Linked DNA regions of Homo sapiens. The protein of the gene in region 3 purifies or fractionates together with the protein of the main gene of each other region. This does not show direct contact. Each region holds a gene or a part of one and is shown on either strand. Other genes may lie near its edges.

Region 1 (7,380 bases), on a different chromosome or scaffold from region 3:
AATGGAGTCTTGCTCTGTTACCCAGGCTGGAGTGCAGAAGCATGATCTTCACTCACTGCAACCCCCACCTCTTGGGTTCAAGAGATCTCGTGCCTCAGCCTCCCCAGTAGATAGGATTACAGGCGCCCGTCACCACACTTGGCTAATTTTCATATTTTCAGTAGAGATGGGGTTACACCACGTTGGCCAGGCTGGTCTTGAACTCCTGACCTCAAATGATCCACCAGCCTCTGCCTCCCTAAGTGATAGGATTATAGGCTCGAGCCACTGCTCGGCTGAGAACACAGTTTTATCATACAGATGAAGCTTTTAGCAGACAGGCTTCAGAGAGAATAGGTTGCAAAATGTTTATTATCAGACTTAAAGTCTGCATCGATGTTAATGTCAGAGACATACAATGAGGCAGGTTCAGCCCCCACTTCCCATCATGGCCCAAAACAGTCTCTCAGGTTAAATGTTAAAGAGCCCTGGCTAAGGAGGAAGTCCATTCAGATGGTTGGGGGCGCCTTAGAATTTTATTTTTGGTTTACAGCAGTTAAGTACATAGACAGCTAAGTAGCAACAAAAAATGGCAATTATTAGCACCAGAGAAAACAAGAAGTGCAGGAAAAGTAATCTGTATAACATACGGTTCAGCTGTCAACATGATGTTTATTCACACTGTCATTAGAAAAAAAAAACACTGGGCCTGGCACGGTGGCTCACGCCTGTAATCCCAGCACTCAGGGAGGCCGAGGCGGGCAGACCATTTGAGGTCAGGAGTTTGAAACAAGCCTGGCCAACATGGTGTAACTTCGTCTCTACTAAAAATACAAAAAAATCATTCGGGTGTGCTGGCGGGGACCTGTAGTCCCAGCTACTCAGGAGGCTGAGGCAAGAGAATGGCGTGAACCCGGGAGGCAGAGCTTGCAGTGAGACGAGATCCCGCTACTGCACTCCAGCCTGGGAGACAGAGCAAAACTCTTGTCTCAAAAAAAAAAAAAAAAAAAAAAAGAAAAGAAAAGAAAATCGATCGGGTGTGCTGGCGGGCGCCTGTAATCCCACCTACTTAGGAGGCTGAGGCAGAACTGCTTGAACCGGGAAGGCAGAGGCCGCATTAAGCAGAGACTGTGCCACTGCACTCCAGCCTGAGCCACAGAGCGAGACACTGTCTCGAAAGAAAAAAAAACACTGAATACTGATCTAACTAAAACTGGACACAGGTTCAACGGCAGACTACGGAGTTGGGGAGGCCCCGAAGGTGGAAGTGTTTGTGTGTGTGTTTGGGATGAGGGGAAGGAGGTCAGGGGCTACTAAAAATGATACCTACTATACATGGGTTAAATCAATAGACAACAGAAATATAATACCAAATTCAAAAGGTGGAAAGAAGTTTCTCCTGAGGAATATTAAATAAAATAGGGATGAGGGTGATGGGACTGGCTAACTTTTTTTTTTTTTTTTTTGAGACGGAGTCTCGCTCTGTCACCCAGGCTGGAGTGCAGTGGTGTGATCTCGGCTCACTGCAACCTCCACCTCCCGAGTTCAAGCGATTCTCCTGCTCCAGCCTCCTGAGGAGCTGGGACTACAGGCGCGTGCCACCATGCCCAGCTAATTTTTGTGTTTTTAGTACAGACGGGGTTTTACCATGTTGTCCAGGATGGTCTCGATCTCCAGACCTTGTGATCCACCCACCTCAGCCTCCCAAAGTGTTGGGATTACAAGCATGAGCCACCGCGCCAGGAATGGAATGGCTAGTTTTCAACGTGCCTTTTAGAAATACTTCACTAGCCGGGGCGCGGTGGCTCATGCCTGTAATCCCAGCACTTTGGGTGGCTGAGGTGGGAGGATCACTTGAGCCCACGAGTTCGAGACCAGCCTGGGCAACATAGCAAGATGCCATTTCTAAAAAAAAAAAAAAAAAAAAAAATTTAAAAAATTAGCGGGCGTGGCAGCCTGCACCTGCAGTCCCAGCTACTCCAGAGGCTGAGACGGGAGGATCGCTTGAGCCCAGGAGTCTGAGGTTGCAGTGAGCCAAGATCGCATCACTGCACTCCAGCCTAGACAACAGCAAGACCCTGTCTTTAAATAAAACAGAACAGAACAAAGTAAAACAAAGAGAATAGGGACGACTCCTGGGTTGTGTTTTGTTAGTCTGTTTGTTTCTTGTTTGTCTAGTCTTTCAACTGAAGATGTGAATGGGTGAAGATACTTTCAACGAGACGGTTTGTCTGGGGAAGACCAAGAAGGGGGAACAGAAAGATTTCTTCAGTAAGATTCATTCTCACCCCGTTCGGGTTGAGATCCCTAAGGAAAGAAAGTTCTGAGAGGAGAGGATGGGTGGACGTCACAATGAGGCAAAAAGCATCAAAGGGGGAACTTTCTATCAGAACTTTCTAACAACCAGGCGGAGAGCGGACAGCTCTATCTTGGACGGGGTGGTGGCCAGCAGCTCTCTCGGGCCAGGGCTGAAAAAAACCTCCAAGGCTCGGACTGCCGCCCCGACTTCTGAAGCAGCGGTGTCGTTCGGGGCTGACCGACGAGCGTCCCTAGCGACAAGGGGCCGTGTCCATGTGCCGGTTCCCGCGCTGCAAGAGGGGGCGGCGGCCGGAGCTGCCCAACGGGAGGGGAGCACAGAACCGCCACGCGCACACGCCTCGGGCCGGAGCGGCCGAGGATGAGGGGCCTGAGGGAGCGGACGCTCGAGAACAGGAGCCCCCCTGGACCACCTGGGCCACAGGGCAGACGCCCGCGGGGGCAGAGCGCGCCTCACGTGAGGCGTGGGGCGGGGCAATTCGCTTCTCGCCTCAGGCGGAATCGCTCACCCGACGGCACGTAGTCCTCGTCCTCCTCCGACGTAGAGAAGTCTTCGGAGTCGAATTCCTCCATGTTGCTGCCGCTCGACGCTGGTCAAACTCACAAGACCGCAGCAGCCGCCTCCAACGGCAAAGCTCTAGGGAGAGACCATAGAGCCCCGGCGGCGGCGACGGCAGCTAGGGCGGCCCCCGACAGCGCTTTGCACATGCGCAGAGAGTACTACGTGGTTGCCCTACGACACTTCCGGCCGATGCCTCCGGGCTGGCGTCCCTGAAGCCCTCGCTGGGAGCCCGAACCCGCCCGGACGCGGTGCATGCTGGAACTTGTAGTCTTCGGCGCTGCCTCGCCGCCTTAATATAATAAACCTGCTTAAATAAAATTACATATCTATGGAAATACAGGTGACCTTCATTAATCATTAATTCGTAATGCCAAATTCACTTACTTGCTAAAATGTATTTGTAACCCTAAAATCAATCATCACGGTACTGTCTGGGGTTCTTCCCGGGCATGCGCAGAGGGTGAAAATTTGGAGTTGGCGGAGGTAAGGTTCCCAGCTGAAGTTTGAACTGGGAGAAGCGCCGCCTTCTAGTCGCAGCTCCTGTGCTGTAAACAAAGAGTCCTTTCCGCAGTCTGTTTACTGACACTTTTTTTTCTGCTTTTTGTGGGTGGTTTTGCTTTCTAAAATGGCCCCCAAGCGTAGTGCTTAAGCTCTGCCCAGTGTTCCTAAGCGAAAGAAGACCGTGATGTGCCTTACGGAGAAAGTCCGCGTGTTGGATAAGCTCCAATCAGGCATGAGTTACAGTGCTGTTGGCCATGAGCTCAATGTTAACGAGTCGACAATCCGGTACATCAAGAAAAAGGAAAAGGAAATTCACCGATCTGTCCGTGAGGCCGCTCCGGATAGTGCTGAAGTGACCTCCATCGTGCGTGATGAAGCTATGACAAAGATGGAAAAGATGGAAAAGCGGCTAAATTTGTGGATTCATGAGATGTCAATCGATTAAAAAAAACATAGTGGACAGCATTGTGGTGAGGCTGAAAGCCAAAGATATCTGTGGTCACGTTACCCAGAGTCAAAGAAATGCTAAGCCCTTCTCGGCGAGTGCTGGCCGGCTCGCGCGTTTCAAAAGGCGATACGGGGTGAAAAATGTTAAACTTGCAGGTGAGGCGAGCTCTGCAGATCAGGAGGCTGCGGAAGAATTTTAAAAATACTTGCTAAGTGTTATACAGGAAAAGGGTTATGTGAAAGAGCAGGTTTTCAATGCGGATGAGACTGGCTTATTTTACAAGGATGTTGGCAAACGAACCTATATAATGCAAACGGCCTCCAAAGCCCCTGGCTTTAAATCATGCCAGGATCATGCACCCTTGTTATTGTGCGCCAATGCCAAGAGCGACTAAAGTGCAAACTCCTAATGGTGTAAAGAACCCAAAATCCACAAGCACTTAACGGGAAATACGTGAACCATCTGCCAGTCTATTGGAGGTGGAACAAAAAAGTGTGGATGATGTCTGATTGGTTCCACAACTGCTTCATCCCAGAAGCTGAACACTGTCTCCAGGGCAGAAACCTTGCCTTCAAGGGTTTTTTGTTTTGTTTTGTTTTGTTTTTTGTTTGTTTGGGTTTGTTTTGTTTTGGTTTGGTTTTGAAACGGAGTCTCGCTCTGTCGCCCAGGCTGGAGTGCAGTGGCGCAATCTCGGCTCACTGCAAGCTCCGCCTCCCGGGTTCACGTCATTCTCCTGCCTCAGCCTCCCGAGTAGCTGGGACTACAGGCGTCCACTACCACGCCTGGATAATTTTTTGTATTTTCAGTAGAGACGGGGTTTCACCGTGTTAGCCAGGATGGTCTTGATCTCCTGACCTCATGATCCGCCTGCCTCGGCCTCCCAAAGTGTTGGGATTACAGGCGTGAGCCACCGCGCCGGGCACCTTCAAGGTTTTGTTAATTTTGGATAATGCTACAATCCATTGCTGCAAAGAACTCGAAAATGCACACGCCAACATAGGAGTTCTTTTTATGCCCCCAAACACTAAGTCTCTCATCCAACCCCTCAATCGGGGCATAATAAAAGCATTCAAGGCACACTACACAAGGGAGCTTTATATGAAGGCCTGTGAGGCTCTCAGGACCAACAAGGAAACCACCATGCTGGACTATTGGAAGTCGGTCACTACATGCAACGTTATTGATTATGTCAGTACAGCCTGGGAGAGCATTGGTCAGGCTACTACCAATAACTGTTGGGAAAATGTTTGGCCAGACTGCGTGGAGAATTTTGAAGGGTTTGAAGGTGTTACAGAAAATATAAAGAACACTGTCAGAGACATAATGCATATGGCACAGCAGGTAAGTGGAGAGGGCTTTGATGACGTGAAGGAAGGAGATGTGGAGTACATTTTGGCAGAGAAGGCAGTGGAACCAACCAACGAAGACCTGGATGAGATGGCAAAAGAAGGCATTGGAGTTGATGGCCATGAAAGTCGGCCCAAGACTTCCAGAATTGTCCCTCTCACAGCGCCAAAATATCAGAATGGAGTTCTGCCTTGGAAAAAATTTTTAGCGACATGGAAGAGTGTGACCCTACGCTTGATCGAAGCCTCAAATTTAAATGGCTGGCCTCCACTGCGTTTGCCCCTTATACCGAGATGCTTAAAGATTTCAGGCAGAAAAGCCAGGCAGGCAAGGCTAATGCAATTTCTCAAGCCAGTTTGGGAGGGAAGATTGCCCACTCCTTCAACAAGTGTCAAGAGCCAGACTCCTAAGGTAGAAATGCCAGAGGTTGACCTGCCACCCTCTTCCTCTTCTGCAGAATAAATTTCACTCACCCCTCCCCTGGTTTCTGTGGGGCAAGCCAAGGTCGAGAGGTTTAACCACATTGTGCAGCTCCATCAACCGTAAGATTTTAGTTGATATTTTTATAAAACTTAGGATGCTCCATCTTTGAACTTTTTCCCTTTATTTGTATTGCTGTACTGTAGGGTATACAGTATGTGTGCAAAGTAGTGTATGTGTTTACTGTGGGAACTGTACAGTATGTTATACTGTTGACTGTATATGGGAACTATATGTGTGTACTCTGTGTGTGCCAATGAAAAGGTTGTACAGGCTGGACGCGGTGGCTCACACTTGTAATCCCAGCACTTTGGGAGGCTGAGGTGGGCGGATCACAAGGTCAGGAGTTCAAGACCATCCTGGCCAACATGGTGAAACCCTGTCTCTACTAAAAATAGAAAAATTAGCTGGGTGTGGTGGTGGGCGCCTGTAATCCCAGCTACTCAGGAGGCTGAAACAGGAAAATCGTTTGAACCTGGGGGTCGGAGGTGGCAGTGAGCCAAGACCATGCCATTGCACTCCAGCCTAGACAAAAGGGCAAGACTGACTCAAAAAAAAAAAGTAGTGCAATCTCAGTACACTAGAGTACATTACACCAAACTACTGTCATTGAAATTTTATTGTAAATACTGCAGATTATTTTTAAGAAATACATATTAAATAAGGTGTCTTTGAACAGAAACACACATAAAACAAAGTTACATACCGATCAGTTGACAAAAGTGTTGACCAGAGGTTCACAGGAACCTAACCCTGTATTTCTCCCAGGACCCATGGTTCGGTTTTTGCTAATTCAATGTTCTCGACAACTTTATAGCCATAACTACTGTGAATACAAAGAATTGACTATTCAGGAATGCAGCCATCATCCACAGGAACCCTTCAAGTTAAACCATATGGAAGTACAACCATATATAATCTTTACCATTTCTTCAGATTAAAACATTTTAATGATCTATTTATGAGGTAACAATCAGAAGCAAATTCAGAAGAGACACCAATGACTACCACACTATTTGGTTTTGTTTGTTTTTGAGATGGAGTCTCTCTCTGTCGCCCAGGCTGGAGTGCAGTGGCGCGATCTCGGCTCAATGCAACCCCCACCTCCCTGGTTCAAGCAATTCCCCTGCCTCAGCCTCCCAAGTAGCTGGGATTACAGGCGCACGCCACCACGCCCGGCTATTTTTTTTTTTTGTATTTTTAGTAGAGACGGGGTTTCACCATGTTAGCTAGACTGGTCTCAAACTCTTGACCTCAGGCAATCCGCCTGCCTCGACCTCCCAAAATGTTGGGATTACAGGCGTGAGCCACCGTGCCCGGCAACTATTTGTTTATCTTGTATACAAATATGAGTTTTTGTCAGCTGAAATTGCTCCTCATTGACACTCTGGACTAGACTGGGTCTGTAAATCCAGGAAATCAAGAAATAAATCTTTTGTGAATCAAGGAATAGATGAGACATGCATGTGATTAATAAGACATTGCAATGGCTCTATACCAGCAAACTTTTAAAAATAGCCTTATTGATTGGGAGGCTGAGGCAGGCGGATCACAAGGTCAGGAGATCGAGACCATCCTGGCTAACACGGTGAAACCCCGTCTGTACTAAAAAATATAAAAAATTAGCCGGGCGTGGTGGCAGGCGCCTGTAGTCCCAGCTACTCGGGAGGCTGAGGCCGGAGAATGGCATGAACCTGGGAGGCGGAGCTTGCAGTGAGCCGAGATCGCGCCACTGCACTCCGGCCTG
Region 2 (7,665 bases), on a different chromosome or scaffold from region 3:
ATTCTAACAAACATAAATCAATATCTACAGAGACATAAAATAGAAAACCTCACTGCTTTCCATTTAAACTCCAAATTGGTTCTCTACCAGATCCTGAGCAATATTCTGTTTCTAGCAAAGAGACAAAAATTGGAATACTTGACAATTGCTATTATTTATTCTGGTAGGTTGTATCACCTGATGTAAAGTTTCCATAAATGATTCCTTAAAACATCATACATAAATTATTTAGGAACCAGCTCTTTCTCCATAATTTTTGGGCGGTGTTCGGGTGTTTGTGTTTTTGGAGGATTCATCCAACTGGTTATTATGACATTGATTACTAAATCGTTTATTCTTTACTTCCTAATTTATTAGACTATTTTGTTTCATTACGAGTTCAGAGCATCAAAGAGCTTTATCCTTGATGACAAAAAAATGGGCAAAGACAGTCATATATACTTAGTCTGACAAAAGAACAGCCCCAGAAAGATTTCAAGAACATATGGAGTGCAAATTTTCACTTTGAAAGTCTGACCTTTCAGTTGACATTGTTAACAGTCAGCTGAGGGCAGGATACGATATCTTAATCATGATTACCTTTATTTGTATCACACACTACAACCTGGTAAATCCTCTCAATATGAACAAGGGGCCAGGAAGATGTGATGGTTAACAGGCTCTCAAGCAGACTGACTGGGGCTAGAATTTTAGCTTGGCCACTTAATTTACTCTGGGACTTGGAAAAAGATGTTTTAATCTTTCTCAGTCACACATTCCTCCTCTTTAAAATGATGTTAAAATAGCATCTACCTTTAAGTGATATTGAGAGAACTAAATGAATGAATACATGGAAAGTGCTTAGAACTGTGCTGGGCAAACAGCTGAAAAAATATAATCTATTATATTAAAAGTATTTAACACTATCTTTCAAGAAGAAAGCCTGACCCTGAAGCTCAAGCCATGTGGCTCCAAGTTAGGTGCTCTTTACATTATGTGGGGGATTGGCTGCTGCTGTGTTGTACAATTCCTCCAAGAGCCGTGAGGTGTGGAGCCCTGACAGCGTCGTCCTGTTACCTCAGGTGCAAGTCATTAAAAAAGGTCAAATACATCTCCTTGGCTTTTCTTTCATTTCCCATGTTAACAGATTTCTCTGAAGGAGGATTATTTTGACATGACCCATTTAGCCTCTGGCATACAGCCTCTCACCTGTCACTTCAAACTTTTACATAATTCTTAATAAGCTGACAATATTCGGTTGGGTAATTATTTTCTTTTTTAAAATTTATTATTATTTTTTGAAATAGGGTCTTGCTCTGGCACCAAGGCTGGTTTCAAACTCCTGGTCTCAGGTGATCCTTCCGGCCTTGGCCTTCCAAAGTGCTGGGATTACAGGGGCACGTCACCACACCTGGCCAGGGTAATTATTTTCATCTTCCTTAATTAATGCAAGGTGTTAACATTTTGTGACAGGTACTTTGTCTTTGACAAAACACAAAAATGGCACTGTGATTTGAGATGAGTTTGTACCCTACTGTAGCCAAAGATATCATAATGACAGGTCCTAAACCTTAACATTTATACTGAATTTCTCCTAGAAAGCATAAAGTTTACAAGGCAACACACAATACTCTGAATAGAGCATATTTGTTATTGCAAAACCGTCGTTTTAATTTTCCTTTCTGATATTTGAAATTGCAGGCACTCTATGGATAGCCCGAATGCAATTCTATATTGAAAAAGGAAACCACTTATTTAATAACTGCTGAAAGAAGTCCAAATTGTATCTATTTGTCAGAAGTCTATTTCAAACCTTCCAAAGCCTATTCTAATTTCTTGCAAGATCCCACCTTTGCCTTTTCATACCACCTTGTTTGTATTCCTTTTATGGCAAATATTAGAATTATTATTTACAAACATGTCTTATCTTCAAAATATATCCAGAATCCAACTGCTTCTAACTAATCATTTTCACCGCTACCGCTTTGGTCCAAACCACTGTCATCTTTTCCTTGCATTACGGTGATATCCTTCTAACTGGTTCTGCTGTTTTCACTCTGGCCCTCCCACTTCCACACCAGACTATTCTTAACAGCAGTTAGCATGATCCCATAGAAACTTAGGCCATACTGTGTCACTCCTCTCCTAAATCCACCTCACCCAGAGTAAAGGCCAAAGTTCTTTTTATTTTTTTAAGATAGAGTCTCACTCTGTTGCCCAGGCTGGAGTGCAGTGGCACAATCTCGGCTCACTGCAACCTCCGCCTCTCGGGTTCAAGCAATTCTCCTGCCTCAGCCTCCCAAGTAGCTGGGATTACAGGTGCACGCCATCACACCTGACTGATTTTTTATATATTTTTGGTAAAGACAGGGTTTCACCATGTTGGCCATGCTAGTCTTGAACTCCTGACCTCAAGTGATCCGCCCACCTCGGCCTCCCAAAAGTTCTGGGATTACAGGAGTGAGCCACTGTGCCCGGCTCCAAAGTTCTTATCAATGGCCTACGAGGCCCTACATGATGTGCTTCCTCTGCGCCCCGCCCGCCCCACCCCCCACCCCCAAACTGCCCAGCTTCTACTTTTTCCTTCACTCACTCTTGATGTTCCCTAAATTCATCAAGCATTCTCCCGTGACAGGGCGTTGCACTTGCTGTTCCCCTTGCATGGAAAACAACTCTTCCAGGTATACATGTGCCTCACTTCCCAGCTTTCTCCAAGTTTCTGCTAAAATGTAATCTTATTAAACAAGAGAATTTCTCTTACCATCTCATATAAAAATGGCAAGTCCCTTCTCTCTTCCCCATCTCCACTCCCTTTACATTGCTTTCGTTTTTCCAACAGCCCTTATCACCACAAAGCATATTATTCACTCATTTATTGTATGTCTCCTCCCTTCAATAAAATGTAAGTTCCAGGAAGGAAGAGATTTATCTGTTCACTGCTGTAATCCCAGTACCTAGAACAGTGCTTGGCACACAGAAGGCAATCAATAAATATTTACTGAATAAATGAACAAACTTCCACTTTATTGAGAGAAAGGGTCTTGCTCTGTGGTTCAGGCTGGAGTGCAGTGGCATGATCATAGCTCGTACGATCCTTTCTGATATTTGAAATTGCAGGCACTCTATGGATAGCGTCAATGCAATTATGCAGCCTCAAAGTCCTGGGCTCAAGCGATCCTTCCGCCTCAGCCTCCACAAGCAGGTACCACCATGCTTCCGTTTTAGAACATAAACTCCTTGAAGGTTCGGCCTGATTCTTGACACTGTTCACATGATCAACTGTGGTGACTTTCATTTAATGGACCTTAACAAATATTTCTGAATGAAGAGCAAGGGAATCTAAGTTACTGAGAATACTTGAGATGAGTCTACAAAGAATGAGGGAAATCAACAATCCAAGCAACTGCATACAAAGTACCCTGGTTCTAAAACGAAAAGGTGGTTGTGGAAAGGGGAACCAGATGTTTCTCCATCTACCAATATTTTGGGCTGTATTTCCAAGGCATTCATGAAAGTTGCCGAGACAGTAAACATTTCACTCCTTAAACTGGTCGTCTTAATTCACTGTGATTAAACAGCTGTATGTTTCAGGACTCTGTTCAGGTTCGTGCCCTACTCATATCATTTAATCTTCCCAACAAATCCATGCACATAAGATTTTAATCCGCTCACACTCGGCAAAGGAGGCAACGTGGGCTCGGGGAGGGCAGTGGCCGCTCAAAGTGGCTGGGCGGCTAATAGGTGTCAGTGCCGGGATTCTAACGAAGGACATCTGGCTTCTGGGCCATAGAACACCCGCACCCAGGCCTTTCGAGGTTGACTTAACTTAACAGCCGGCTCCGCCTCTGCAGGAGTTACCTCCCAAAAGGCAGAAATACGATTGCGCAGACTGCCAGAACAGCCCAAGTTCTTCACCCAGGTTCCGGCGGGGTCAGGAGCCTTTAGCATTTCTCAAGGAATGCAGTTTTGCCCACAGATGCTTCGAAAACCCAAGTTTCCTGATCGTTGCTATGACACACCCAGGATTAAGCGAGCGTATGCGAGAAGCGCTCTGCAAACCGCCAGGCAAACGGCAACGAAGAAGCTGCCTCAGAAACAATACCTGAATGAGGCGGGGGCCGAAGAACTTGCTGACAATGGGCACCGGTCAATGCTCGGGTGCGGGCGGGGATGCTCGAGAAGGGCTCCAGTCCTCCCAGCGGAGACGGCGGAGCCCCAAGTGTGCGTTTCCGGGGCGCCGAGGTCTGAGGGGAGCCGGGAGAGCCAGGCCGGCCAGACCGGCCCCCAGACCCCTCTTAACACGGGCGCGGGGCCCCTGCAGCCTGCCGCCCCTCTCGGCCCAGCCAGCTGCATGGCGTCGCGTCCCCATCCGGAAGGCCTGACGGCCCGCCGGCGCCCCGAGCCCCTAGCCCTTCTCGGGGGCCGCCCCTCGCCCGCAGCCACCCCGGCTGCCGCTCACCTGCGCGCCCGGCGTCCTCTTCTTCCTTCCTCCGGAGGCGACTGGAGCCGACCGGCGGTGCCGCCCCCTCCCTCCCCGCCTTCTTCCGCCCCGCCCCCTCGGAGCCGGAACTGCTCCAGCCCCCGCCCTTCTGCCCGCCTTCCGCGGCCCCAGTGTGGCGTCACTTCCGCCAGCGCCCGGCGGCGCGCCGGGAGTCTGGGTCTCGTGAACGCGCCAGGAGCGTCCCTACAGCCGGGAACGCGCCTCGCGGATGACAACAAATTCGTCGCGCGGCGGCAGTGGCGGTGGCTGCCTCAGCCCCTGCCGCCTCCTCTCGCGCTCTCTTGCACTCTCTCCGAGCCGGTTGGGACCCTCCTCGGAAGTCCCCTGGCCTGGGGCCAGGAGGACCCCTCTGCGTCTTGCCTCCGCCAGGCCCAGCGCGAGCGGTGCGGCGCCGGCGATGGGGTCTCCCTGAGGGACTCCCGGCACCAAATAGGGATGGAGGGGCCGCCCCAGGCTTAGGCCCCGCCGCGGCCTGGAGCCGGAGTCGCTACCCCGAGGCCGGAGCCGTCGCAACCCGCAGCCGCAGTCAGCCCAGCTGCCAGCAGTCACTATGCCTTGGCCGTTTTCGGAGTCCATCAAGAAGAGGGCCTGCCGGTACCTCCTGCAGAGGTACCTGGGCCACTTTCTGCAGGAGAAGCTGAGCCTGGAGCAGCTCAGCCTGGACCTGTACCAAGGCACCGGGTCCCTCGCCCAGGTCCCCTTGGACAAATGGGTAAGAGCTGCCGGCGGCGAGCCGGGCGGGGCTCGCTCCCCTCTTTAGGGCGCTTTGAACCAGTGCCATCCAAGATTGGTGACAGTCAGTCCCTCCTTGGGAATTGTTTGGACCCGAGTGTGACACGGCTCAGAGAAATGTGTTAGAGTGTTGTTTAATCTGTTTCTAACAAGTTTGCTCTCCTAAATCACGTGTTCCGGAAACTTTAACAGATGTAATGGAATCTACACTGTGGGAATAATTGAGTCAGTGCTTCGGGGGTCTGTGAAGCAGGCTCAATAGGTCCGTGGGAGGAGGTGACCAGAACTGTCCCTCGGGATGTGAGGGGCCGCAGGGTTTTGTGGCAAACAAACCCTGCCTTGTGGGATGACATTCTGGAAGGATTAAGGATGAAGAGGACCTTTGGATGTCAGAATCCCTAGTTATTTGTTTTGGGTTGGCTGCTTGCGCACCATGTTTGCCTTGTTTGTCATCGTGCAGCGTTTGCCATCTGGAAGAAAGTTAGGTGAAGGCCTCTTGTGCCGGTTTGCCTGCTTTTGCTTGATTATATGTTTACAAGATAGGTTTGTGTATCCAGCCTGTGAATGGTCGTCTGGCCCTAGTAGTGCTGTTGAGTTATGCCTCTTTGCTCCACGTGACAGATCGTAAAAGCAGGTGTTGCAAAAGCGCTGAAGTTGCAATTTTCAGACATTTTAAAACCTGCCTTCTACTTGTCATCTAGAGGCTGTGAATTCACTCATTGCTATACAGGTGCTTCATCTGAATTTCGACTCACCACATGCAGTCGTACCTGCATTTGTGTGTTCAATGCATAGCATTTTACTTAAAGTATATTCACTTTTGGGTTTGACAGGAATAGAGTGACTTCTACCCTTTGCCCAACCCTTACTTCCTTAGCCACAGAAAATCTTAAATTATGGAAATACCTTATTATGACCCTTAAGCGAATTTGTGCTAGAGACTATAAATCAGTATATAATTTTATCAGTATGTACCTGACATAAACTAGGGAGAGGACACAAGATAGTGGAAAGAGCCCTGGTTTGAGAGCAGTAAGACCCAGTCGCTCACCAGGAGGTGAGAGTCCTACCCCTGGAGAGACTCTCCAGACCGCCACAATTAGCCGAGTGATAATGGACTTAGCAATTCACCTGAGTTCAGTAAACACTAATGGAGCACACACTTCATCTCTGTGTCGTCCGTCTTATGGTATTGTATTCCTGTAATTCTTCCAAAAGATAGGGATTCTGAAGGATATTTTTGAATTCAACAACCCATGATTCTATACTTTTGATACAGTTATGAATAGGTTATCTTGAAAAAAGAGGGTTCAGGATTTATTAATGCCTTTTGTGGGTGGAAGGGCTTTGTATGCATTATCCTTTAATGACTTTAACCCTATAAGGTGGGCATTAATATTTCCATTTTACAGATGGAGTTAAGCAGTTTGCCCCATCACACATCTAGCAAGTATTACATCACATGGCCTAAGATCAAAAGAAAGGCAGTTAATGTTTATTGAGTATGTATTTATGTCAGGCATTGTACTAGGCACTTTCATTTGTGAGGTTTTATTTAGTCCTTATGGGAAATCAGAGGTAGTGATATTTGAATTTTATAGTTTGAGTTCAGAATCATTGGCAAAATGATTTATTACTAAACTTAATCTGAGGATGATGTTTTGTTCTTGATGGGCGGGTTTTGTAAACTAAAATGATAATGTCAAAGCATCCAGTAAACATTTGCTGTTGCTGATTTATTTTCATGTGCTGTGTTGATGGTTAGGATAAATCTTAGTGTGACCCTTAGATACAGCTGTTCAGAGTTCTGATTCCAAATTCAGTTTATTTTCACACTTGATTTTTTTTTTTTTTTTTTTTTGGTAGAGGATTCATTCTCTTGCTTTGTTGCCAAAGCTGGTCTTGAACTCCTGGTTTCAAGTGGTCCTCCCACTTCTGCCTCCCAAGTGCTCAGATTACAGGCATGAGCCATAGGACCCAGCCAGATACTTGATTTTAATGACTTACATGACTGAAAAAAAGGTACCTTCGGAGATTCACAGATCCTAATGGAAAAACTGATGCTAATTGAAGAATTGCTGTACTCCTACTGTTTCAATTCTAAATGATCAATTATGCAAAGAATTTTGTTGAACTCAGCAATGACATTCCTTTCATTCCTGATCTCAATTAGTTTTTCTATTATGGCTAATTGACATTGCATATATACACACAATTAGGTTTAAAATTCAGTTTTTCAAGCTCTTTGTTCAGAAGACTTAGATTGGTTGGAATAGTCTTTTCATGTTTTTAAACATTTTGTAAACTATATAGATAATGACTTAAAAAATAAGCAATGTTTTTAATAGACATTGTTTTCAGCAACAAAATCATGGAACAATGGAAACATTTCCAAATACAGTTTTTCAAATGTTCTCCTCATAGTACAAGTAGTCTTTGAAAAGTGGTTGCTT
Region 3 (7,022 bases):
CCTGCCTCTAAAAACAAATACAAATATTAGCCAGGTGTGGTGGCGTGCACCTGTAGTCCCAGCTACTTGGGAGGCTGAGGTGGGAGGCTGGCTTGAGCCTAGGATGTAGAGGCTGCAGTGAGCTGAGATTGTGACACTGCACTCCAGCCTAGGTGACAGAGCCAAACTCTATCTCAAAAAAAAAAAAAAAAAAAAATTTGGGGCCATCTGGACATGGGTGCAGGGCTCATCTGTTGATCACCCAGCCAAGCAAAGGCACCAATGTCACCCAATAACAGGAGCACCAAGGCCTCACTGATGCCACAGGGGTGCAACACCACGAGATGAGGAAAAGGGAGCTAAGAAGAGAGAGGAGAGGGTCAGACTCAGTGTCCAGAGTGGCTGTCACAACATGGTCAGGGGAGCCACTCACCAGCCACCTGGACCTAAGCAAAGCCAGTACCAGAGAGGGACCTGCTCCTGTGTGGTGCCCACGTTGCCTGCTCGGCACCATCTTCAAGCTTTGAATTATTACCCTGAAGAGAATCTAAAATGACATCTAAAATATGCAAAGCCACAGGCATGAAGAGGGCTCTACAGTTGCTTGGTTGGGTAAGGGAGTGGGGAGCTACTGCAAACAGGTACCAGAGAACATTCTGGGAGTTATAAAAGCTATTAAAAAATTAAAAAGCCAGGCACGGTGGCTCACGTCTGTAATCCGAGCACTGTGGGAGGCCAAGGCAGGTGGATCACTTGAGGTAAGAAGTTCGAGACCGGCCTGGCCAACATGGTGAAACCCTGTCTCCACCAAAAATACAAAAATTATAGCCAGGTGTGATGGCGCATGCCTGTAATCCCAGCTGCTCGGCAGGCTGAGGCAGGAGAATCGCTTGAATCTGGGAGGCAGAGGTTGCGGTGAGCCGAGATTGTGCCAGTGCACTCCAGCCTGGACAACAAAAGCAAAACTCTGTCTCAAAAAAAAAAAAAAAAAAAATACAAAAATGAGCCAGGAGTGGTGGCACACACCTGTAAGCCCAGCTAATTGGGAAGCTGAGGCAGGAGAATTGCTTGCACCAGGGAGGCGGAAGTTGTAGTGAGCCAAGATTGCTCCACTATACTCCAGCCTGGGTGACACAGCGAGACTCCGTCTGAAAAGTAAAAAATAAAATGACAGCCAGAAGGTAAGTGTTACCAGAGCTGGGGAGACTGACTACAGGAGGGGAGGAGGGGCCTGTGGGGGTCTGCAAGTGCTCTGCATCTTGACTGGGGTGGTATTTACAGGGTACACACATTGGCAAAACTCTCTGAACTGCTCATTTACCACAGGTGCAGGTTACTTCATGCAGATTACACTTCAATAAACAAAAATAGGCAAAAAGATAGGGTTTTTTTCCCCCCTTGAGTTCATGGTGTTTGAGAACTAAAATTCAGTTAGGGAGGGAAGCAAGGCCAACTAGACTAGCACGAGGGCCTAGCTGGGACCCTCCCGAGTCCAGGCACTCACCCGCCCAGCTTCCGGCCATAGGCAATCGCCTCCTCCACCAGCTCCTGGTAAGCGGGCATCTGTGCTGCGGCCAGGATCAGGGACGGGTTGGTGGTAGCATCCTGGGGCTTGTACTCGTCGATGGCTAGGGAAATAGTTTTCAAAAGCCAAAGTAAGTGGAGTACTTGCTTCCAACTGGAAACATGTGAAGGAACCCTGTAATTCCCCAGGACGTTAGGGGAGTCCAGAGCATTTCCGAAAGCGGGGTCCAGCCACACTTCTCACACCTTCTTCTGGGTCACTGAAGGTTCATCAAGAGGCGGCTGTTTGCATAATGATGGAACAACAAACACTAAGTGCCCAGCGATCAAATATGCCCCTGCAAGAGGTGACCTGTAACAGCATGGGAGTGAGCGGTGCGACAGCTGGGAGAACGCTGGTCAAAGGAAAATGTGCATCCCACTGCCGTACCACCACAAGGAGGCGCGCGGTCTAGTCATGAGCCACATGTGAACGCTGATCTTATGGACTGGGTCATTATCACCATACCCAGCTGCAACAGAGTCAAGAAGCCAAGGGGAGCTGGGCGCGGCGGCCCACGCCTGTAATCCCAGCACTTTGGGAGGCTGAAGCGGGTGGATCACGAGGTCAGGAGATCAAGACCATCCTGGCTAACACGGTGAAACCCCGTCTCTACTAAAAATACAAAAAACTAGCTGGGTGTGGTGGTCGGCACCTGTAGTCCCAGCTACTCGGGAGGCTGAGGCAGGAGAATGGCTTGAATCCAGTAGGCGGAGCTTGCAGTGAGCCGAGATCGCGCCACTGCACTCCAGCATGGGTGACAGAGTGAGACTCCATCTCAAAAAAAAAAAAAAAAAAAAAAAAAAAGGCCAAGGGGAAAAGCACTCAGGACACACAGCATTGCTCCAAAAATTATTACCTGCAAGCCTAGTTGCTGAAGCGGCCTCTAACCTGAAACCAGTTTATCTAATAGTTGCTGAACCGCACTGCTGCAACTTTAAGACTAATTTTATCCACTGCTATCACTCACCAATCATTCTTTTTAGGTTTCATAGAAAGACTAAATTAGCCAGGTGTGGTAGTGCATGCCTGTAGCGTCAGCTACTCAAGAGGCTGAGGCAGGAGGATCGCTTGAGCCCAGGAGGTTGAGACTGCAGTGAGCCATGATCATGCCACTACACTCCCACCTGGGCCAGAGAGCAAGACCCTATCTCTTAAAAAAATAAATTCAGGCCGGGTGCAGTGGCTCATGCCTGTAATCCCAGCATTTTGGGAGGCTGAGGCTGGTGGATCGCCTGAGGTCAGGAGTTTGAAACCAGCCTGGCCAAAATGGTGAAACCCAGTCTCTACTAAAAATACAAAAATGAGCTGGGTGTGGTGACACATGCCCGTAATCCCAGCTACTCAGGAGGCTGAGGCAAGAGAATCGCTTGAACCCAGGAGGTGGAGGTTGCAATGAGCTGAGATTGCACCACTGCACTCCAGCCTGGGTGACAGAGTGAGACTCTGTTTCATAAATAAATAAGCAAACAAATAAATAAATATCGCATTCAGTAGCTTCTGCAGGTAACTTGACAAAACCTGACCTAAGAATCCTTTTAGTCGGAGTGGACAACTTTGACAATGTCCCAAGTTTTTGTTCAAATTGTACTGGTGGTCCCTTTTATAAAGCTGACATTCTCTGCTTTAATCAACCCAGTCATAAAATGCTACTCAGTGGCTGGGCACAGTGGCTCACACCTGTAATCCCAGCACTTTGGGAGGCCAACGGGGGTGGATCACTTGAGGTCAGGAGTTCGAGACCAGCCTGGCTAACACGGCGAAACCCTGTCCCTACTAAAAATATAAAAATTAGCCAGGCGTGGTGGTGCATGCCTATAATCCCAGCTACTCGGGAGGCTGTGGCAGGAAAATCACTTGGACCCGGGAGGTGGAGGTTGCAGTGAGCCGAGATTGTGCCACTGCACTACAGCCTGGGCAATGGAGCAAGACTCTGTTGCAAAAAAAAATAAAAAAGTTTTTTTCTTCAGAGTAACCAACTAAACAGTTCAAAACGTCCAAACTTGTAGCCACTGAGTAGCTTTTTTTTTTTTTCTGACACAGAGTCTCACTCTGTCATCCAGGCTGGAGTGCAGTAAAATGATCTCGCCTCACTGCAACCTCCTCCTCCAGGGTTCAAGTGATTCTCCTACCTCAGCGTCCTCAGTAGCTGGGACTACAGGCTCACACCATGATGCCTGGCTAATTTTTGTACTTGTATTTATTTTTTATTTTTTTCCGAGACGGAGTCTTGCACTGTTGCCCAGGCTGGAGTGCAGTGGCGCAAGCTCAGCTCACTGCAACCTCCAACTCCCAGGTTCAAGTAATTCTCCTGCCTCAGCCCCATGAGTAGCTGGGATTACAGGCACGAGCCACCACGCCAGGCTATGGTTTTTTGTGTTTTTTTTTTTGTATTTGTATTTTTATTTTTTTGAGACGGAGTCTCGCTCTTTCACCCACGCCGGACTGCAGTGGCGCCATCTCGGCTCACTGCAAGCTCTGCCTCCCGGGTTCACGCCATTCTCCTGCCTCAGCCTCCCGAGTAGCTGGGACTACAGGCGCCCGCCACTGCGGCCGGCTAGTTTTTTGTATTTTTAGTAGAGATGGGGTTTCACCGTGTTAGCCAGGATGGTCTCGATCTCCTGACCTCATGATCCGCCCGCCTCAGCCTCCCAAAGTGCTGGGGTTACAGGTGTGAGCCACCACACCCGGCCTTTTTTTTTTGTATTTTTAGTAGAGACGGGGTTTTGCCATGTTGGCCGGGCTGGTCTCGAACTCCTGACCTCAGGTGATCCACCCACCTTGGCCTCCCAAATTGCTGGGATTACAGACGTGAGCCACTGCGCCCGGCCTCTGAAGAAACAACCTGAACTGCATTCCTCTGCTCTCATACCAGAATAATCAACAGAGAGGACTTCTGTGACCGATGTGTGGGGGTTTCTCCCCACGCACCAAACAAGCAATTAATTCTTCAGTGGATACCAGCTGGGCATCCTCCAATTCAATTCCAACCCTGTCTACCTGGAGACAGCCTCAGATCCCACAGGTTGAAGGCTTAGTCCCAACCAACCATTCTCCATTCCCACCCGTCACAAGTCTGGGCTCCAGAACTTCTGATCCACTGGCTTCAACTTGGGGTTGTCAACTTGAATTAACCTTTGTGTTCCATTAATTTGCTGGAGCAGATCACAGAAGTAAGGGAAACACTCACTTACATGTACTGGCTTATTATACAAAGGACACAGAGGAAGAGATGCATAGGGCAAGGCATGTGAGAAGGGGCACGGTGCCTCCATGCCCACCCTGGGTGCACCACCCTTCAGGAGGCTCCATGTGTTCAGGTATTTGGAAGCTCCCTGAACCCTGTCCTCTTGGGCCTTTTATGGAGACTCTACTGGAGAGACATGACTGAAGTATGGACAGCCCTGTTGAAATATTATCATCTAATGAGTGAGGAAACCCAGCAACGCCTCTGTGTTCACCTTCTTACCGTCCTCCGTGCAACATTCCTTCCTCCAGGGTATGTGATGGGACCCCTTTTGAAATGAGGGTCTTAGGACCCACAATTAGAAAAGCAAGTAGACGGCCGGGCGCGGTGGCTGGTGCCTGTAATCCCAGCACTTTAGGAGGCCGAGGCGGGCAGATCACGAGGTCAGGAGATCCAGACCATCCTGGCTAACACGGTGAAACCCCATCTCTACTAAAAAAAAAAAAAAAATACAAAAAATTAGGTGGGCGTGGTGGCGGGCGCCTGTAGTCCCAGCTACTCTGGAGGCTGAGGCAGAAGAATGGCGTGAACCCGGAAGGTGGAGCTTGCAGTGAGCTGAGATCACGCCACTGACTCCAGCCTGGGCGACAGAGCGAGACTCCGCCTCCAAAAAAAAAGAAAAGAAAAGCAAGTAGATAATTTATTTATGGACAGCTCCAAAACAGGCAGGAAAGATTCCTCCCTTGAAGAGAGAAAGGAACAGGTGAAAGGAGAGGAGAAGGTCAGTGATGGAAATTCTGTTTTCCAAGGCCTGCTCCTGAGGCCTAGAGTGCCCCAACATTATAACAGGGCTGTGGGAGTTATGAGACAGGAACTGTGTACACACACATGCATGCATGCACACACATCAATTACCATCAAAATGAGGTTGATGGTTTATTATTATTATTATTGTTATTTTGAGATGGAGTCTCGCTCTGTCGCCCAGGCTAGAGTGCAGTGGCGTGATCCCGGCTCACTGCAACCTCCGTCTTCCAGGTTCAAGCAATTATCTCGCCTCAGCCTCTCGAGTAGCTGGGATTACAGGCACCTGCCACCATACCCGGCTAATTTTTTGTATTTTTAGTAGAGATGGGGTTTCACCATGTTGGCCAGGCTGGTCTCGATCTCTTGACCTCAGGTGATCCACCCTCCTCGGCCTCCCAAAGTGCTGTGATTACAGGCGTAAGCCACCAGCCAAAAATTTTTTGTAGAGATGTGGTCTCACTGTGTTGCCCAGGCTGGTCCCGAACTGCTAGGCCCAAACAATCCTTCTGCCTCAGCCTCCCAAAGTGCTGGGGATTATACGCATGAGCCACCGAGGCTGGCCCCAACTTTCTCTTGTTCTTTGGACAGATCGAAGACCACCCAGTCTGCTTGAACTGCAATTTTTTCTTCCCAAATAAAACGTTGAATTTAGAGATTCGTCTCTACATTTTATTTTGACTTCAACACAGATACCACATGGTTATCTTCAGCAAGGATTGTTAGCTGGGAGTGGTGGCGCACATCTGTAGTCCCAGCTACTTGGGAGGCTGAGGTGGGGGGATCACCTCAGCCCAGGAGGTCAAGGCTGCAGTTAGCCGTGTTGCACCACGTGATTGCACCACTATACAGCCTGGGTGACAGAGCAAGACCCTGTCTCAAAAAAAACCCCAAAAACAAAAACCCAAGGATTCTTTATTCTTAAAACTATTGTTTCTTTTAACACATTAGTTATTTCTCACATAACCAAGCTAGGAATTCAAAGAAGCCAACGAGGCTTAACCTGGGGTCTTGTTCATCTGGCTGTCCAAATGGAAAGTGGAGGTGAAGAGTTATGGCCATTGACACCCATAGAATGGCCCATTGCTCCAGATTAGCCAGTTCAGTAACTTTTTTTTTTTTCTTTTGAGACAGAGTCTCGCTCTGTCGCCCAGGCTGGAGTGCAGTGGCGCGATCTCGGCTCATTGCAAGCTCCGCCTCCCAGGTTCGCACCATTCTCCTGCCTCAGCCTCCCGAGTAGCTGGGACTACAGGCGCCCGCCACCACGCCCAGATAATTTTTTTGTATTTTTAGTAGAGATGGGGTTTCACCGTGTTAGCCAGGATGGTCTGGATCTCCTGACCTCATGATCGGCCTGCCTCGGCCTCCCAAAGTGCTCGGATTACAGGCTTGAGCCACCACACCCGGCCGAAGTTCACAAGTTCAGTAACTTTATTTGGCAAATAAATATCTTTTTTTTTTTTTGAGACAGGGTCTCACTTTGTCTCC
Region 4 (7,022 bases), on a different chromosome or scaffold from region 3:
GCTTCCAGGGTCACCCAATGCATCTGTGAGCAGCAGAGGAGTCTATAAGCACCTAGGCATGCCCACCCCATGGCACCTTGTTGTGTGCGGCCAGGAAGGCTGAATATCCCTCTCCCTGGAGGTCACCTCAGTAGTCACTAGAGTCTGGCCAGAGCCAAGAACAGACTGAACTCCCAGGTAGCACCCAGCAGCCCGAAAGACTAGCAGGAGCCCCCAAGAAGCTGCAAGTGGTCCAGATCCTGCCCATTTTTAACACCAGAGGGCAGTGCCAGGCAGCAGCACCAAAGCCATGACAATATCCCAGAGCCCTTTCCTCGACATCCACCCCCTCCCAGACACCTCCCAGCACTGCCAAACCCCCACTCAGAACATCCTCATATACCTGAGTCTACATGGGCAGAACAAGCCACAACCCCTGAGAGCAGGCAGGTGGGCAGCCAGGGGCATTTGGCAGGGAAGCCGACCCAGGCCCTGGGATCAGCCCCCCTCGTGCCATAGACTTCCTCTGTCCCCGGGCAAGTCCCTGACCACTTGTAGTCTCATTTTCCCATCTTTAAAATGGGTGAGGCCATCCCAGGCCTAGGAATCTGAAGCCCACACCTGGGTGCCAGGGAGTGACTTACGCCTGCCTCATTCTCCGGCCTGGGGCAGAACCCAGGTTCCAAACCCCCCAAGGCTCTTGGCCCACACAGGCCTTGCTCAGCATCTGCCATTGCTTGAGGAGTACCCCACTCACCTCCTGGAGGGAACAGTTCTCTCCGGGCCCTGCCTGGCTCTGTGTCGGCCCTTCAGCTGGAGCAGGTGGCCGGAGCTGGCAGAGCACACACAGCTGCAGCTCTGAAAGGCACCAGCCAGGGTGGGGCACGGGGGCTGCCTCACTCCACGACCTTCCTCTCACCCACAGACCCTCCAAGTCCCTCCTCTCCTCCTGCCTGTACATGCCCCCACCGGCAGAGGCCAGACGGATCTGAGTTTAAATCCTGGCTCAGCCACAGGGGTCACTGAGTCACAGCATCTCCCGCTCCCCTTCCCTGGAGCCTGGTGAGCTCAGTGAGCAGCAAGGGCTGTTTCCCTGGATGTGCGGGTCAGAGCTACGTAGCCACAGTGTCTGGGCGAGGGGTGAAGGTGGGGAGGGCGGCTTGTGCATACTGACCCGTGATCCCTCGGCCCTTGAAGGTCTTGGCAATGATGGCTGTTGGCTGGTGCTTGGCCTGGCCAAAGGCCTTGCACAGCTCCTCCACGCTGTGTCCATCCACGATGATGGCATGCCAACTGGGGACAGGGGGCAGAGAGTAAGGGGCAATTCCCAGGGGCCACAACACCGAGGAGCCTTCCAGGGAAAGGTCTGCCTTGGCAGCTGGGGTCTGCCCAGGCTCCACCCCACAACTGCGGCCTCAGCTGGAGTAGTAGAAAGCTTGCAACATTCCTGTTTCCAGTTTGGGTTTTTTAAATCCTTTTCTTTTTCACATTATTTTACTTCCTTTTGTTTGCCTCTGAACAGGTTTTCCTCCTCCTCTTAAGTAATCCAGAGCTCAGTTCCTTTATTGTCTCTTTCATTCCTGATCTGCTCATTTCCTACTGAAAGCTGTTCTGGGGTCAGCGCACTGGGTTTGGAATCTGTCTGCTATTAGATTCTTGATGAATTTTTTGGCCCAATTCTTATTTGGGGAACACATTTGATCACTCCACAGATGCTGGATGTGGTGCTGGAAATGTTTTTGAAATGAACCATGGAGTCAAATATACAGGAAGGAGCTGGGGCAGAGCACCCTTTCTCTTGAAAAGCTATCCTTTTGGGGACTCTTTTTGACATAAGAATAAAAATAGCACTTCTCAAACTGAGTGCCATGCCAACCACTACCCATATTAGCCCACTGAAGCCTCACCACGCCATGCTTGGGTGCTGAGCTGGCCCCATTGTACAGACAAATCAACTGAGACACCGAAGGTGGAGTAAGTAACGTGACCCACGCCACAAAGCAAGTTAGCGGTGGAGCCAGGACTTCAGGAATCTGGCTTGAGTCACGAGGTTATGGACACAGGTCCTGGGGGTGCTGCTGGGGTTGTACTCTGAGTCCCCAGATAGATGTGGCCTTGGGGAGGCCTGTGGGGTGAGGACCCTGTGGCTCAGTTTCCTCGCCTGTCCAACAGAGATTATTTCCTCCCTTCCTCCTCTCCCTTTCTGAGGTCAGTCATCAGGGAACACAGGCCTGCGTATGCTGTGCTACTGCAAGGTAACCCCAAGCATCCTGTTACTTAGTGTAGTCACAGGCATGGGTTCATCCGCAAAACGCAGTCCTGGAGGCCTGACCTGAGTCTCAAAGCCTTGCACGGCACCTGCCCTGCTCCCTCCCCTCCACAGCCTCCTCAGCCAATGCTGGGCCCCTGTGCAGAGCAGCTTGTGTTTGGCAACACCGGTGGAGGCTTTGAGGTGGAGCCCCTCTGGCTGACACCCATGCAGATTGACCTCCCTGCTTTGTGCCCTTTGACCCTGAATTTGTAACCAATCAAGGCCGAAGGGGGGCATCTGGAAACCCTATCTCCCATTTCACCAGGAGCCTGTTCCTCCTCCCCAGGCTGGGCGGGGCTGGGCACAGGACGTGGCCACCAAACTGAGGTTCAAACCTCTCCGCAGCTATACATCCTTTAGCTTTACCGAGCAAGCCCCCATCCCTCAAGAACCCTCCTTCCTCAAGAACAAAGCGAGCTGACGTGAGATGGTGTGTGGAAGCTCCGAGAGCCACCATGCCACAACCACGAAAACAAGGAAACTCACTTAAAACTGGGCCTGGCCCACATATCCTGAGCCATTAAGTCCAAATGCCTAGAGTTTGAAATTGTGAGTCAAATGCTAAAGAAAGGGACCTTTAGATGGTGCTTAAGGTCCCAGCTTCAGCTCCTGCACCTGCACCTGCAAAGCTGTGATCACAGACCACTCTCCCGTGCTGTGACCACACTCAGGCCACAGCCTCGTACATACCCGAAGGCCTCGCACCGCTTCTGGTAGATGTCCATCTGGTGCTGCAGTGGGGCCGGGTCACTCTGGCCCAGGCGATTGATGTCTAGAATGGCCACAAGGTTGTCCAGCTTATAGATGCTGGCGAAGGCCATGGCCTCCCATACAGAGCCCTCTGACAGCTCCCCGTCTCCCAGCAAGCAATAGACTCGGTAGCTGTGGACAGAGAGTGAATCAGGCCAGTCCCTCTCACCTGGACCCAGCTGGCTCCCACCCCCCCACCCATCCAAGGAGCCTGCATTCTGGGTAAAGGAGCAGCCACGCATGGATATGCAGAACAGATGGCATTTACACTCGAGGGGCAACAGTGTCACCAGGTTCCTGCAGCCTACCACAAGCCACACCCCAAGAGAAAATGGCATGAAGGAAGACGTCAGGAGCTCAGGAAGAAGTACTGGTTGTTAAGAAACAGAGGTCTAGGACAACAGGGATCTGGCTAATAAGATCTAGAAAAATGGGGGTTGTTGGAATGAGAGGAAAGTGAGGAAGGGTGGGTGAATAGGCTTGAGCCACCTGCTGCAGGGGACAGACCCCGCTGTGAACCAGAGGTTGGAGGAGGCCTTGGGACTGGCTGGGTGGGCCAGTGGGAAAGGGGAACCTTGGGAACCAAGCTCTGCTTCTGCCCGGAGGAGGGAGGTGGGCCAAGGAGGCCTGAGGCACTCTAGGCAACACCCTGGAGCAAGAGGGCTCTGGGGAGGATAGAGCAGAGGGCACTTGAGGACCAGGCGCTTCCTGGGACAGGCTCTCCCCAAGCTTCCAAGACTAGCTCTTGACCCCAAGACTGAAGCTGCACCTGGCTCTTTCTCTACCACAGGGGCCCTCTCCTCCCCTCAACACAGGCAACTGTGATCTTTTCAAGACAGTGAGACGTTAAAAAGAACACTGAACTTGGGATAAATTACCCAGCAAACAGAACGTTCCCGGCCTGGGAGATGTGAGGGGATGGGGGTAGCAGAGGGACGGCAGCAACAGACAGGACTTGTCTGAAGGTCGCGCTGTCAGGAAGTTGCTGAGCCAGGATTCAAACGCAGGTCTGACTGTAGCCTAGACTGTCCGCTCCTTGCCGTGCAGGCATGCAAGTAGGGTGAGGAGTGGTAGGACTTGGGGACCTCCCCTTACCCTGCCCAGTGTCTAGCTGTGTAGCCCTAGGAAATGAGGCTGGTGCCTGGTTGGGCTCAGAGGGGACATGGCTGCCCTCCTGCTCCTGCAGGAAAAGGCCCTCAACCCGGCTGCATGCTCAGCAGTCCAAGCCTCCAGGCCTCCCTGCCGCAGGGCCAAGGCAGGGGCAGCAGGAAGAGGCTGGGACAGCTAGCCACGGAGCTGTCAGCATGACTCAGCACTTCCACATGCCAGCAGGCCAGGAGCACTCCCTGCAGCCTCTCCTGCCTCATACTGCTCTTCTGTGGCCTCCACCACAGGAGGTGGTGCCCCTGTGGGGTACCATGGCCAGAAGGACAAAGCCTCAGGCCCACACTTCAGAGGCCCTATCCTGTCCCAGCCTTGCCTCCTCTTTCCCCTGTAGGTTTTGAGGGGGCCCAGAGACCCTGCAGGGACTCTGGTCTGGCACAGCAGCTCCAGAAAGGGGCCACATGATGGGGCTGAGCCAGAGAAGCCAACTCGACTTCCCAGAAAGGGATTCCAGGGAAGGCAACTGGCTGCCACCCCAAGCCCACACCCACTTCCAGGGAAGTCGAACCGAGGCTAGCACTGGAGGCCCAGCACAGCTTTGGCTTCGAGACTAGGGACAAGGCTAAGCCCTACAGGGCCATCAGGCTCAGGTCAGAGGGCGTGCTGAGGTCCCGAGGAGATGCCAAGGAAGGGGTTGTGAACAGGGAAGGGGCCTACAGGAGCCTGGGCTAACCCTGAGGCTTGGTATTGCCTGAGCTGTTAGAGTTAGGGGTGGGGGGCTGCAAACATCCATTCATGAACTAATTTGAAGAGAGGGAACCCTAAACAGAAGGTCGACATTTGTTGTAGAACGATTTGGAAACTACCTTACGTGTCCAACAACAAAGGACTGGCTAGATGGATTATAGCATCTCCATAAAACAGAATATTATGTGATCATTAAAACCAGCTCTCAGGATGTGTGCAGTGGCTCACGCCTGTAATCCCAGCACTCTGGGAGGCTGAAGTAGGGAGATGACCTGAGGTCAGGAGTTTGAGACTGACCATCCTGGCCAACGTCATGAAACCCCGTCTCTACTAAATATATAAAAATTAGCTGAGTGTGGTGGTGCGCGTCTGTAATCCCAGCTACTCGGGAAGCTGAGGCAGGAGAATTACTTGAACCCAGGAGGCGGAGGTTGCAGTGAGCTAAGATGGCACCACTGCACTCCAGCCTGGGTGACAGAGCAAGACTCCATCTCAAAAAAACAAAACAAAACAAAAAAAACCAGCTCTCCACTGTTAATATCAGGAGAAAAAGCTCATGATAGAAGGCTTGGTTTAAAGTGTAATACTAGATTTTATATTATACACACACACACACACACACACACACACACACACACACACTGGGATTACAGATTTGTAAGCTTTTCTCATGATAACATGGACAAAATACATCATTAGATTTAAATTGGGGGTGGGAGGCAGTGTGCTAAGAATAAGGAAAACATTGGTTGGGTGCAGTGGCTCATGCCTGTAATCCCAGCACTTTGGGAGGCCGAGGTGGGCAGATCACAAGGTCAGGAGATTGAGACCATCCTGGCTAACATGGTGAAAGCCCGTCTCTACTAAAAATACAAAAAATTAGCCAGGCGTGGTGGCACGTACCTGTAGTCCCAGCTACTCGGGAGGCTGAGGCAGGAGGAGAATCACTTGAACCCGGGAGGCGGAGGTTGCAGTGGGCCGAGATCGTACCACTGCACTCCAGCCTGGGTGACAGAGCGAGACTCCATCTCAGAAAAAATAAAAATAAAAAAATAAGGAAAACGTTCATTTCTTAATATCATTCTGTACTTTTTAAACAGGAGGGCAGGGAGAAACAGTGAGTGGAGACCAGTTTGCTCTATCAAGACGCTACCTCCGGGTGCCTGGCCTGACATGATAATCCCTGGATGCCCTGGCCCCTTCCCCCAGGTACAGTCAGGGGCCTAGGCTCCAGGCAACCCTGGCCCCAAGCCACCCTGGCTTCTGGGAACCCAGCTAAACTCCTTCTCCCTACACTGACTTGTTCCATTATGTTAGGGTCAGGAAATGCCCCTTCACAGGGAATTATTTCCAGCAACTGTAGGGAATAATTAACTCACATCTCTGGTTCTCTGCCAAATAAAATGCTCTTAAACATGCATCTCATTCTTTGTGTGTCTCTCTCTCTTTACTTCATGGTGAATCACTTCTGGGTGTAGCCAAGCCTGCCCCAAGGCTCACCAAGGAATGAAAGCAAACTGTGGTCAGGTGACACTGGCCTGAAGGGGTCTGGAAGGGACTGTGAGGCCTCCTTGGAGAGCCAGTCCTGGGGAAGGGCCTGCACACAGAAGGTGCTCCCTGCAGCCTCCTGTCCTTCAAGGACCCACAGTCTTCCCGAACCCCACTATGGCACTTCTGCTGCAGGAGTGGAGGACAGGGCAGTGGAGATGCCATCAGCTGCAGAACTGGGCCCTTCTCACACCCTGCGGGCTGGCCCCACTGGCCTTCCTCCTCTAGGAGGCTTCCCGCCCACAGGACTCCCCGAGCTCCTGTGGTGCCCTCAGCCTCTCCAAGAGCAGCCTGGGTACCTCCACCACCAACTGGATGGCCTAGGCCAGCATCTTGCCTCAGCTTCCTCACCTGTAAGACGGGTCACGGTTCTCACACCACTACCCAACTCACAGGGGGCTTTTAAAGGTGGAACCCAATACAGCACATGAGCACTGAGCACAGGGCCTAGCCCCCAAAGGGCAAAGGAACCCTTCTGATGAGTGACTGACATGGTTAGGCTCTGGGTCCCCACCCAAATCTTACCTTGTAGCTCCCGTAATTCCTACTGGTTGTGGGAGGGGCCCAGCAGGAGATAACTGAA

The links.
Region 1: the proteins of TALDO1 (region 3) and CFDP1 purify together in Homo sapiens (affinity purification with mass spectrometry; 2 studies listed by BioGRID and IntAct, with this or other methods). This does not show direct contact.
Region 2: the proteins of TALDO1 (region 3) and ATG2B purify together in Homo sapiens (affinity purification with mass spectrometry; 2 studies listed by BioGRID and IntAct, with this or other methods). This does not show direct contact.
Region 4: the proteins of TALDO1 (region 3) and TKT fractionate together in Homo sapiens (co-fractionation; 2 studies listed by BioGRID). This does not show direct contact.

What each region holds. Positions count from the first base shown.
Region 1 is NC_000016.10:75,430,485-75,437,864, forward strand, and holds the start of CFDP1 (craniofacial development protein 1), read right to left. Parts: upstream 3,020-7,380; 5' UTR 2,869-3,019; coding exon 2,805-2,868; intron 1-2,804. Other genes in the region: tigger transposable element-derived protein 1-like, read left to right, coding at 4,818-5,615. UniProt on the Homo sapiens protein: May play a role during embryogenesis.
Region 2 is NC_000014.9:96,360,342-96,368,006, reverse strand, and holds the start of ATG2B (autophagy-related protein 2 homolog B), read left to right. Parts: upstream 1-4,665; 5' UTR 4,666-5,030; coding exon 5,031-5,192; intron 5,193-7,665. UniProt on the Homo sapiens protein: Lipid transfer protein required for both autophagosome formation and regulation of lipid droplet morphology and dispersion.
Region 3 is NC_000011.10:750,464-757,485, reverse strand, and holds part of TALDO1 (transaldolase), read right to left. Parts: intron 1,608-7,022; coding exon 1,484-1,607; intron 1-1,483. UniProt on the Homo sapiens protein: Catalyzes the rate-limiting step of the non-oxidative phase in the pentose phosphate pathway. Catalyzes the reversible conversion of sedheptulose-7-phosphate and D-glyceraldehyde 3-phosphate into erythrose-4-phosphate and beta-D-fructose 6-phosphate.
Region 4 is NC_000003.12:53,232,003-53,239,024, forward strand, and holds part of TKT (transketolase), read right to left. Parts: intron 5,819-7,022; coding exon of another isoform or gene 5,795-5,818; intron 3,173-5,794; coding exon 2,981-3,172; intron 1,273-2,980; coding exon 1,154-1,272; intron 1-1,153. UniProt on the Homo sapiens protein: Catalyzes the transfer of a two-carbon ketol group from a ketose donor to an aldose acceptor, via a covalent intermediate with the cofactor thiamine pyrophosphate.